2 separate regions of the Homo sapiens genome follow, and region 1 is linked to region 2. Evidence: fine-mapped expression QTL. Tissue or cell type: whole blood. Region 2 holds a variant in brackets; the other region holds the start of a gene. All regions are shown on one strand. Distances are from middle to middle.

Region 1 (2,622 bases), 48 kb before region 2:
CCTCCTCACATAAGAGGACAGTGGCCAACTGTAGGACATGTCATTTTAGAGCTGTGAGGTACACAGCCCATATGGCAGTACCTGTCAACCCTGGACCTCCTTCCTCCTGAGGTTGAGTTGAGAATTCCACGAAATAAACCATAGGATTCATGCACACACCAGGCTGGATCTGCTACTCACTAGAGATTGACTCCCTTCTCCTTCTCTCACCTGAGGTACATTCCTACATTACAGCATCTGGAAAAGTATCCAGCTCTGGGGTTTGGTGACCTGGTTTCTCCAGGGTAAAACTTATGTACAGAGGTTTTTAGGTCCATGTTGTCATCCTGTAACTGGGGGAACCTTTCTGATCCTAGAGAAGTGATTGAGGTGTGACCCTTGGTGGCTTAGTGGATGCCAAGGTCAATAATTAAAACCCAGGGGTGTCATCATATCCTAACTTGGGGCACCCTTGGAGAGGCTTACCAGAAAACACCCTCGTTGTTGTTTTTATTTCTCAGTTTTCCAACAGATGGAGAAGCAGAGGTGTAGGGAATGGCCGGAACATGTGTGGGATCTGAATTTGCCCAAGGTCCTTATCTGGTGCATCAGAGAGTTAAAGGCCCAAGCCAATGTTCAGACAGTGAGGTCCAGAGGGAGGAAGCATCCTGGCCAACAGCAAGCAGCTGATGAACAGCAGAGCATTAGAGGACAGAGATGAGGAGGAAAGGAGAGAGGTGAGGGAAGGACCTGAAGCTGCTGCCAGGACTGAGAGAGGAAACCATAGGCAAGTCTTTTCTCTTGGGTCCCTGGAGCTGCCTCCTGCCATTTTTCATCCTCTATTGCCTGTGTGGACATGTGTTCACATTCACATGTGCCAGCACACATAGGGATGTAGAAAGCCCTGAAATAGCTAGATTGAGTCCTAGCTTGTAATCTGAGGTCTGGGGCAAGTGATCAGTACACTTGTCATCTGAGGTCCTTGAGCCTCAGTTTACTCATCTGTAAAATGGGGTTGCTTGATGCCTGCCTTGCCCACTTAGGTAGTAAAATGCACAAACCCAAATGGTCTACCTCCACAGCCTGCACTGATCCAGCCTCCCCCACCACCAGCAGAATAATCTGGGAGGTTGGGCACATGACCCTGCATCAAAGAATGCATGAGTGCCTCTCTGCACACAGCCCTGGGCAGTGCCCATTTCTCTTTCAGCTCAGTGAATGATGGAAACTCATGGAAGACAGCAGACAAAGCAGCCCCAGGGATAGGGGAGATTCCAGAGAGGCCCGTGACCAGGCCACAGGGATGCTGGGGCTGTAAACCAAAAGCCACTGGACTCTGTAAACCCACTGGGCACCACAGAGGCAGAAGGGGTGATGAGTGAGAGGCGAGTGGTAGTGGACTTGCCCACCAGTGCCAGCTCCAGCATGCCCCTCCAGAGGCGCAGGGCGTCCTTCAGGGGGCCACGGTCATCATCCTCCCTGGAGAGCCCCCCAGCCTCCAGGACCAATGCCATGAGTGGCCTTGTCCGAGCACCCGGGGTCTATGTAGGAACAGCACCCAGTGGGTGCATAGGTGGCTTGGGTGCCCGTGTGACCCGCCGGGCCCTCGGCATCAGCAGTGTCTTCCTTCAGGGCCTGCGGAGCTCAGGCCTGGCCACCGTGCCGGCTCCAGGTTTGGAGAGGGACCATGGTGCTGTTGAGGACCTAGGGGGCTGCCTGGTGGAATATATGGCCAAAGTGCACGCCCTTGAGCAAGTCAGTCAGGAGCTGGAAACACAACTGCGGATGCACCTGGAGAGCAAAGCCACACGCTCGGGAAACTGGGGTGCCCTACGGGCTTCCTGGGCCAGCAGCTGCCAGCAGGTAAGTGTCCAGGCTGTGCCAAGGGCTTTGCAGAGGGCTGGGAGGGGCTGCTGAAGGCAGCGGGTAGGGTTGTGAGTAGGCTGAGGCCAGAGAAACTGACCATAATCCCCTACACTTTCACACTTAAAATGGTAATGATAACAACAATGCTACCTTTTACCGAGGTTTACTAGGAGCCCACGCTAGCCCCCATACGTGCACTACCCACTGTCTTCTTTAAACTTCAAAGAAATGCTATGCAGTGGATCATTCACTGATTGCATTTTTCAGATGAGAAACTGAGGCATGTAATTTGCCCAAGACTTCAAAGCTAGTAGAGGGATGGAGATGAGATTTGAACCTGAATTTTTGTGCCTCCAAAGTTGCATTTGCCCCATTACCCTGGGGCTGCCTCAGTCACCTTTACTGTTGAGAAGGGATTTTTACAGCTATTATCCAATCAAATACCATTGGATGGATGAGGTGTTAAGAACAATGAATAAATGGAGGTGTGTTCCTGTATCCACCTACAACCACGCTGTTCAATAGAAATATGAACTACATTGGTAATTGACAAGTTTCTATTACCCACAGTAAAACACGTAAAAAGAAGCAGGTGAAGTTAATATTATAGCTTATTTAACTCTATATGTCCAGAATGTTATTTCAACATGTAATCAATACAAAATATATTAATGAGGTAATTTACATTCAAGTAGAGCTTTCTGCGTGATGGAAATATTAATATCTTATATCTGCACTGTCCAATCTGGCAGCCACTAGCCATATATGGCTATCAAG
Region 2 (2,758 bases):
CCAGCCTTCCAAAGGCATCCATGACCAGAAATTTTAAGAGCTGCTAGGCAAAGCCAGTGAAACTTCATCTAAGGAGCCGGACTCTGCCCTGGAGAGATGAAAGCTTGTCACTGTGACAGAGGCTATGAACAAGTCTGCCTTTGAATAGTCTTTTTGTGCCAAAAATCCCACTCTAAAAACTCTTAGAAGATATCCAGATTTTATGCCTTATTATTTATATCCCCCCACCCTGACCATTGTCCAAAGAGAGGGACATCTTAATTCCACAAATATTTGCTGTAAGAAAGGTTCTCTGAGGTCCCCCAGAGCCTCTGTGCCTAACACAAGTCATGGTGGTAAGTGATCTTGACGCTCCCAGTGACCTTGTCTCCTTTGGTGTGTGTGATCGCTCTAGGTGGGTGAGGCAGTCTTGGAAAATGCCCGGCTCATGCTGCAGACAGAAACTATCCAGGCCGGAGCAGATGACTTTAAAGAGAGGTAATGTCTTACAGCAGAGGCGACAGTCCCTCCACATCCCTAGACTCCTAGGCAAGTGTGGATAATGCTGTTCTGGAGCCTGCATCATCCACCTTCTACCTCAGGGGAAGCTGGCAGGATAACAGAGCCATGATTATCCAGCTCACACCCCTCCTTGTAAACATAAAGTAGGCCCCAAGGGCTCAAAGATTTTGCCCACTGTCAGTTGGTTTAGAGCAGGGTTCTCAAACTCTGGAATGCTCAGAATCACCCAGGGGCCATATAGAAAACAGAGATTGCTGCGCCCCACCCTGTTGAATTTCTGACTCAATGGGTCTGGAGAAGGGCCCCAAATTTATATTCCTAACAAGTTCCCAGGGATGCTGATCCTGCTGGTCCTGGGACTCAAATACTTTGAGAACTACTAGCTTACAGTAATGATTCTCCAACCTGGGCATATCAGAATTACCTGGGCACTTAAAAATGTCAGTGCAGTGCACAAGCCATAGACTAATTAAATCAGAGTCCCCAGGGGTTGGGTCCAGGCTTCAGCAGTTTTAGAGCTCACCAGGTGACTTAATGTGCATCCAGGCTTGAGAACCGTGCTCAGCTACACCTCCCACTCAGTCCCTGAAGGCATCTGGGTTTGCAGCCACTCTCCTGGAGATGGACACTTTTAACATGGGTGCTTTGGAGACAGAAACCACATTTCTTATTTTGGGGTCCCCACCCTGGTGCTTAGCAGGTTGTCAGTAATGTTTGTTAAAGGATCCTTGGTTGAAAAGGAGGACAATCAGGATAGCGATGAAGATGCCGGATCCCCTAACCTGGATCTGAACTCCTGAGTTTTCCCTGGAGTTCTGTGTTGCAACACTCCCATGAGGCTGGTAGCCCGGGAAGCCAGGTTATCAGAAGTTGGCTGCAATTGCCTTCATTTTAATAAATCAATGTGTGACAACTGCACTAACAGTGCCCTCAAATCTATTGAAACAGTGACTTTTACCATTCATTGTCTAACTATCACATAATTGGCCTGTTGGTAACATTTATAATCTGATTCTTTTTCTTTTGGGCTACTCAGTTATGCTAATTAAGTTCCTTTATCTGCAGATATGAAAATGAGCAGCCATTTCGAAAGGC[G/A]GCAGAAGAGGAAATTAACTCTCTGTATAAAGTCATTGATGAGGCTAATTTGACTAAAATGGACCTGGAGAGTCAAATAGAAAGTCTGAAAGAAGAACTTGGCTCTCTATCAAGAAACTATGAAGAGGTAGGAGGGGGCTGGGGTTGCTGGGTTGGCCACAAGACCAGAAGTTCACATCTGTCTGCCTGTGCTTCATAACAAGGCCACAGTAGCTCATTTCTGACTCTCCACATTGCGTGCCCAGGACTGCAGGGAACATACCTGTAAAATACTTTCAGATCCTTGAAGTGGGTCAGGTTACCCCAGCAGTCTCAAACTCAAATAGCTTCAGGAACCAGTGTGGTACAGAAACAGGGGAAGGCAGCCAGTCTTGGCACTAGCAAATGAGGGAACTTGTGTTAAATTAGAGGGAGCAACCCCTCCTCAATGCATTCTATGTCAGGTTTTTTTTTCAACACTGTATTATACAAACAAAACAACTCTGAGGGTAGATCCAAGCTGTGGTTGACATCTACTCATTAACAAAACTGGGTCAGATTATTGAGTGACAGAACTGAAGAGGACCTCCAACAGTTATGGGGTCTAGTTCCCTGCGAGACTTCAGCAATTCTAAACCACCTCACACATATTACTGTCTGATCCAAGATTTAGGCTGCTTCAAGTTGAAAGAGTCAAAACCCACTTAACGATGCTCACATTGGGAAGTTCTTTCTTGAGACCAACTTAAGCTAACCAGCAACTGTAAGCCCATTTCTTCTTGTTCTTAGCTCAGTGATTTAAGACTACTCTCCAACAGTAACCATTTAGAGATGCCAAAGTTATCTTTTAAGTCTCTTTCATCCTTGTCTGGCTTTATGCATAAATGCCCTGTGCTGTTGTTGCTTACTTTGTTTTTGTTTTTGTTTTTGTTTTATTTTACTTTAAGTTTTAGGGTACATGTGCACAATGTGCAGGTTAGTTACATATGTATACATGTGGTTTTTTGTTTGTTTGTTTGTTTGTTTGTTTGTTTGTTTTATTTTGATTTCTGCTTTGGGCCTGGGCTTGTGGAGACCAACCTAAGAAATGCATCCTTGGTGCTAGGCATGGTGGTTCAAGCCTGTAATCCCAGCACTTTGAGAGGCCAAGGCAGGGGATCACTTGAGCCCAGGAGTTCAAGAC

What was found. PIP is the estimated chance that this variant, and not a neighbour inherited with it, causes the effect.
Region 1: BFSP2 starts here. The variant in region 2 is fine-mapped to the expression of BFSP2 in whole blood (INTERVAL, PIP above 0.99). The same link has a PIP of 0.9 or more in T cells and blood mononuclear cells.

What each region holds. Positions count from the first base shown.
Region 1 is chr3:133,398,731-133,401,352 of GRCh38, forward strand. It overlaps BFSP2 (beaded filament structural protein 2), which reads left to right and starts at 1,326. Exons shown (of 7, transcript NM_003571.4): 1 at 1,326-1,842. The coding sequence starts at 1,354.
Region 2 is chr3:133,446,923-133,449,680 of GRCh38, forward strand. It overlaps BFSP2 (beaded filament structural protein 2), which reads left to right. Exons shown (of 7, transcript NM_003571.4): 2 at 395-477; 3 at 1,567-1,723. All of the region lies in intron 2 of BFSP2-AS1 (BFSP2 antisense RNA 1), which reads right to left. Among named protein-coding and RNA genes, the nearest start is that of BFSP2-AS1, 43 kb to the right of the region's middle. The variant G/A (reference allele first, on the strand shown) is at 1,597.